2 linked regions of the Homo sapiens genome follow. The protein of the gene in region 2 purifies or fractionates together with the protein of the main gene of each other region. This does not show direct contact. Each region holds a gene or a part of one and is shown on either strand. Other genes may lie near its edges.

Region 1 (3,500 bases), about 19 Mb from region 2:
TTTTTTTTTTTAAGATGGAGTTTCACTCTTGTTGCCCAGAATGGAATGCAATGTTGTGATCTTGGCTCACTGCAACCTCCGCTTCCCGGGTTCAAGCAATTCTCCTGCCTCAGCTGGGATTACAGGCGCATGCCACCACGCCTGGCTAATTTTTTGTATTTTTAGTAAAGACGGGGTTTCACCATGTTGGCCAGGCTGGTCTCGAATTCCTGACCTCAGGTGATCCACCTGCCTCAGCCTCCCAAACTGCTGGGATTACAGGCATGAGCCACTATGCCTGGCCACATTCTGCTTTTGTGGGTGTGCTTTTATTTATTTTTGGCAGAGATGGGGCCTCACTATGTTGCTCAGGCTGGTCTAGAACTCCTGGCCTCAAGTGATCCTCCCGCCTCAGCCTCCCAAAGTGCTGGGATTATAGGCACGAGTCACCACGTCCAGCCCGTTTTTTTTTTTTTTTTTTTTTGAGACAGGGTCTCACGCTGTCGCCCAGGCTGGAGTGCAATGGAGTGATCACAGCTCACTGCAGCCTTGACCTCCCCAGGCTCAGGTGATCCTGCCACCTCAGTGTCCGAGCAGCTGGGACTATAGGCGCACACCACCATGCCCAACTTTTTTTTTTTTTTTTTTTTTTGAGAGGAAGTCTCACTCTTGTCGCCCAGGCTAGAGTGCAATGGCACAATCTCGGCACACTGCAACCTCCACCTCCCAGGTTCAAGCGATTCTCCTGCCCCAGCCTCCTGAGTAGCTGGGATTACAGGCGCCCACCACCATGCCTGGCTAGTTTTTTTTGTATTTTCAGTAGAGATGGAGTTTCACTATGTTGGCCAAGCTGGTCTCGAACTCCTGACCTCAGGTGATCCGCCCGCCTCAGCATCCCAAAGTGCTGGGATTACAGGCGTGAGCCACTGCGCCCGGCCCTGCTTTTTGTTTTTGTAGAGATAGGGTTTTGTCATGTCCCCAGGCTGCCCTGGCCTTAAGTGATGCTCCCACCTCAGCCTCCCAAAGTGCTGGGATTACAGGCGTGAACCACCGCACCCAGCCCATGTGCTTTTAAATAAATAGCCATCCCCAAGGCTTTATACCTTGCCCCCATGATGACAGTTGTATACCTGCGGCTTGGCCTCTCCTCTGGGTTCCAGACCCTCCTGTAAGATACCTTCTCCCTAGTGACCCTCGGACTTCTCAGACTTCCCCTACTTTCAGCCAAGAGAAAGCCTTGCTTTCTACTTCCAAACTGTAGTAACACCCCCAGCCCTGACACCACCCTAATTCAGCTTCCCTATTTCAATAAACAGTGCTACTATCCACCCATTTGTTCCATCAGAAAGCCTAGAAGGGTTGATGGGGCTGGGAGGATAAAAGCAGCCCAGAAATTACCCTGAGTCCATTCATTCTCTCACACCTCTCTTCTCATCTACCAACAAGTCCCAACAGCTCTACCTCCAAAATATCTCCCTAAACCCACCACCAAGTTCTAAACCATTACAATCACTACACCCAGCTCCCAACACTTCATCTCACCCCCACCTGCTGTCCACGTGCCAATGTCCATATGATCATGGCACTCTCCAACTCAATCTCCAGGCCAGGTTTCTCCTACAACTCAGACTGAAGGTCCAACTCCCTACTAACACCTGCAAGGAACGGCTTAATGAGAAAACCAACTTTCCAGCCCAGGCTCCTGCCTCTCTCTCCCTTACCATAAGCACATCAGTCTTATCTAGGTTCCTGGAGGATATCACACCCAAAATTTCCCACTTCAGGGCCTTTGCATGTGCTGTCCTCTCAGCATGGGAGACTCTGTCCCCCAATTTGTCTCAAAGCTAGCTGCCTCTCACATTCCAAAGATTAACTGAAGTGAGTTAGAAAAGTCAAAGGGGAGAGATATATACACCTATTGTGTACCCACAACATTTTAAAGTAAAAAATAAAAACAAAGGGAAGATAAACCAGAAAAAGGGACATCAAAAAGAGGTGAAGAGCCTCTTTCAGTGAACAGTGAACAGTGTCGGCAACTGCAGGGGCAAGGAGAAGCCAAGAGCAGGGCAGAGAGAGGCCATGAGGGAAGGGTGGATGAAAGAACAAGACACAGGAGAAGGGTCTAGAACAAAATCAGTGGGTACAGTGACAAAGAGGGGGCTGCAGTGAAAGGCAGGGACTAAATGGAAGTGACAGACTTGGGGGAGCTGGTGCTGACAGGTCAGGGAATGAGCAGCAAATTGGGAGGAGTCAGTAACAAGAGAGTGGACAAAGCAGGTAGGGAAGCTGCGAGTACACAGAGTGGCAGGTCGGGGGACAGTACGGTGCATGGGGGAAGGTGACAGGCTGAAGGAAGAGATGATGGGGATGGAAGCAACAGGGCAGTGCGGGGTAAGGTGAGGTTAGATGACTGGTGATATCTCAAGCCGTGATGGGGAGCGCGACAGGAAAAGACGAGTAGTGTTGGAAAGGGTTAGGAAATAATGGAAAGGGGAATCAGTGATTGGACAAGAGGGGTGATGACAGCGGGCACTGAAAGTTCTCCCACTGACAGGCAGGAGAGAAGCAGTGGGGAGACACTGACAGGTGGGGTCACTAACAGCAGGGCAGGGTACTAATGGGTCCCTAACAGATAAGGGATGAAGGAGGTAGCATGAAAGGGGACAGGAACTGACAACAGGGGAGAACTGATGGGGAGGATCTGACAGGCACTAACACAGAGGCCGATAGCAAAGAGCGGAAGGGCCACAACAGGCAGGATGAGGGAGACACTTATGAGGGAAACTTACTGACAGTGGGGCTCACTGACAGAGGCACTGGCACTGATGGGGGGCACTGACAGAGAAGATCAATGACAGGTGGGGACATTGCTGACAGAAGGGGTCACAGAGCGCTTGGACTGACAAGGAAGGGCACTGGCAGGGGAGGGATTATGCGGTCAGTGACTGACGGGTACGGGTGGGGGTGCAGGCACTGATGGGAAGTGGGGACATGACAGAAAGAAAATAATTGACTGGGGGGGCACTGGCTGACGGGGGACAGGGATGCGGGACTCTGACTGGGGGACACTGATGGGGAGCAGAGTGGACTGACGGTGGGGGAGCACTGACCAACAGTGGAGGCACTGACCAGTGCGCGGACTGACAGATGCGGAGGCACTGACCGACAGGAGGAGCATGACTTGCAAGGGGCACTGACTGACGGTGGGGGGCACTGATGGGTGGGGTGGGGACTGATGGGTGAGGTGCAATGACTAGCTAGCAGGGGACACTGACTGGTGCAGGAAGCACTGACTGGTGTAGGGTGGGGGAACAGAAGGAGGGCACTGACTGGGGGGGCACTGACTGACTGGGAGGGAACTGACTGGAGGGGGCCCTGACTTGGGAGGAAACTGACTTGGGGGGCACTTACTGGAGGGGAACTGACTGGAGTGGGCACTGACTGGGGGCACTGATTTGGGGGGCACTGACTGGAGGGGGCACTGACGGGGGAACTGATTGCGGGGGGAACTGACTGGGGGG
Region 2 (3,112 bases):
GGGTGACCAGCTGGTTCTTGAAGGAGTCACACGACGCGGCTGTGGAGTAGGAGCAGACGTGGGGGCCACCAACACAGTGAGCACCCAGCACGGAGCCCGAGTGTGGTCTGCACATGGATTCTCAGGGAGGCCCCACATGCCAGCCTCAGTTCCTTCCCCAGCATTCCCCTCCCTCCCGGTCCAGCCACACAGCAGCAGGGCTGCCTAGCCCCGCCTGTGCAGTGACCCACCTGGTGGGAAGGGCAGGTCCTCTGTGCACATACGCGGGCCCAGGAACGACTCCAGGGAGTAGGTGACCCCCTTTACCTGCTCCACCTCACAGTTCTTCACCTGCCCAAAGTTGAGGATCCTTCCATCCGATGGGCTAATCTGGAAGGGCAGGAGAGGCTTGCTGCCAGGGAGAGCAGGGTCTCCTCCCCCCAGGAGACAGCCCCCACCTCCCCTTGTCATCCTGCCCCTTCCAGATACGCTGGAGACCAGGGGGGCTGTGCTGGGGAGGCAGGAAAAAGTCCTGTTTCCTGCAGGAGGAAAGGGTCAGGCCTCACCACGCTGTGCAGGCCACAGACAGGCCGGGCCTGCGGCTTCAGCTTGCGCCGGAAGAACTCGCTGAGGTTGCGGTAGTGATGCAGGTCCTCCACAGCGGCCTCTTTCATGTTCACCCCAAACGTCCAGATGTACAGGCTGTAGACGGGCCTGCGCAGCCAGTGTGGCAGCTCCACCTGATTGAGGCGACCCCAGGCCCGTGACAGCAAGCGCGTTGGCACTGACTTGTACAAAGCCACCTGCAGGCCACAGGGCAAGGGGCTGAGTTGACCACACTGCCCCAGCTCCAGAGAGCCCAAGTAGTGTCATTAGCCCAGCTCTCACTTCAGGGGAGAATCTGCACCCCACGGAGGACACCAGGGCCCAGGTGCCCCACGCTGCTTTTGTGATGTGGCTGTTTCTCACTGGGAACCAGACTGCACCTGCCACACGGAGTGCTGGATTTACATACAACTCCAGTGGATTTCATCATTTCATGCAAAAGTCAAATAGCAACTGCTCCAGTCCCAGAACGGGAGACGCCCAGCAGTCTTACTTCTTAAAGTGGGGGTCGGAAACGGATCTGATCCTAACCACAGTGTGTGACCCTAGCCACGGTGACCCCAATATCACAGTGTGTGGAGAGGTGGTGGGCATCTTGCCCGTGGTCACTGCCCATATCCCAGACCACCAAAGGAGGAGGCTCCCAAGTGCATGGAACAAGTCTACAGCCCAAAGTGTGTCCCTCTGTCTTAACAGGAAGAAGGAGGATACCCTGAGCACCAACAGGGATTTTCAGATGCAGGTCTGCGATGTCACTGTCACCTGGGCCTGAGCTGCAGACACAGGGTCTGCAGCCCCCACAGGTCCAGCCAGCACTCTTGAGGGCCTGGATGCAGCCAGTCTGAGAAGCCCAGCCCTGCTGAGCCCCACCTTGGCCCCACGGCAGGACTTGTGTTCAACGTTCTACTGTGACTGAGCCAGGCCATAAAGCCATCTGCACCTGGGGTTCCTCCCAGGAGGCAAAGAGAAGTCATCCCCTCAGGCCCCTCTGTTCTCTCTTCCTTCAGGGAAGCCTGGAGCACCTAAGACAGACGATGGCCTGGGGACAAGCACTGGGTCCCACTAGATGGTCCCAGAGCTCTCCGGCAGGGCCAGGTACCCAGGAAGGGGCAGCCTCTTAAACTTCAGGTGCTGCTGCCACTGTAGAAGCTGCCTGTAATTGGTGGCTGCTGCTTCTCTAAACACAACCAAGACACCAACTCCCCAAGGTGTAAAACTGATTTCATTCCAACTTTCAACACCTCTCCAAGGTAAGGTAAGCTCCCAGAGAGCTGCTCTTATCCCTTCCAGCTGATGCCCAGTCACACAGAAGGGCTATGTGAGCCCAGGCCCTTCCCAGGCACAGGTGGGAGCCTGGGCTAATGTCCAGGGTGCCTCAGTGCCCCTGAGCTCTGATGACACCCATGTGACTGTCAAAGGCCCAGGAACAGGGTTTCCTCCTTGGGGTCAACCTGCCTGGGAAGCCAAGGGCAAGAGCAAGCCCTCTAGGGACCAGGAGAGGACAAGCCAGTTCCCTTGCCCATTCCTGGGGCATGCCTCTGGGTTCCTTAAGGGTGTCCTCACCCTAAGGGACCCAAACAGGATCCATCCATCCTGAACCACCCCTTTGGCATCCCGGAATTAATTTGGCTTCTGTTCAAAATCACCTATAAGCTCTTTTTTGCTTGAACACAGAAAAATCAGAGACAGACACCATTTTCTGAATCCCCAGACTGGGTTCCTTCCAGAACCAGAGCCCCAAATGGCAGACATGAGGCAGGCTAGGGGAGTGGGCAGGGCACGACATGCCCTCGCAGTCACCCGCGGCCCAGGTAGTGGCCTTCTCAAAAGCTGCCTTGGCCTTGCCCACCAATGAACCTTCCGACCCGGACCCCCTGAAGATGTAGCGGTGACCTCTGCTTCTGACAGCTCGCCACCACCTCAGTCTCTCCTGCACCCCAACCTCAGGCCTGCCCGGAAGGGAGGTCCGAGCCACAGGGGCCTGTGCACACTTACCCTGCTTACGGGCCTCCATCCCACCCGGCTGAGCGGTCTGAGGGCGCCGAAGGGCAGGAGGTAGTAGAGGACGGTCAAGGGCCAGGAGCGCAGTTTCAGAGCGGGTCTGGACATGCAGCTCAGCTGCCCCAGCCTCCGCCTCAGGGCCAGCTGGGGGAAGTGCAACCTGCAGGGCACAGGTCCATGCACAGCCAGGTCAGTGGCCAGGCTCTGGGCAGGACCCAGGAGGCTGCCACCTGCACCCAGGGCAGGATTCCTCCTGTCTACCCACCCTTGGCAAGCTGCCTCTCCATGGGGGTGATGGAGCCCAGCAAGCACTGGCTGTGCCCCCTCGTCCCAACCCCATTCTGATTCAGGGGCTTGGCTGCCTCTGGCTAGCGGACTCATTTCCCAGGCTCTCCCACCCGCCAGCCAGCTGGGGAGGACTGGGAATGTGGGGGCAGCCGCAAGAGGAGAGTCAGGCCCAGCTGCGGGGCACCTCTCAGCTGCAGCAGCTCCCAGCAAGGGCCTCCAGGCCCAAGCACCTGGGCCC

The links. Proteins that work in one complex are often made in the same cells at the same time.
Region 1: the proteins of PISD (region 2) and PPP6R2 purify together in Homo sapiens (co-immunoprecipitation; one large-scale study listed by IntAct). This does not show direct contact.

The regions. Positions count from the first base shown.
Region 1 is NC_000022.11:50,346,327-50,349,826, reverse strand, and holds part of PPP6R2 (serine/threonine-protein phosphatase 6 regulatory subunit 2), read right to left. Parts: intron 1-3,500. UniProt on the Homo sapiens protein: Regulatory subunit of protein phosphatase 6 (PP6). May function as a scaffolding PP6 subunit. Involved in the PP6-mediated dephosphorylation of NFKBIE opposing its degradation in response to TNF-alpha.
Region 2 is NC_000022.11:31,621,104-31,624,215, forward strand, and holds part of PISD (phosphatidylserine decarboxylase proenzyme, mitochondrial), read right to left. Parts: intron 2,747-3,112; coding exon of another isoform or gene 2,581-2,746; intron 783-2,580; coding exon 546-782; intron 429-545; exon of another isoform or gene 370-428; coding exon 231-369; intron 40-230; coding exon 1-39. UniProt on the Homo sapiens protein: Catalyzes the formation of phosphatidylethanolamine (PtdEtn) from phosphatidylserine (PtdSer). Plays a central role in phospholipid metabolism and in the interorganelle trafficking of phosphatidylserine.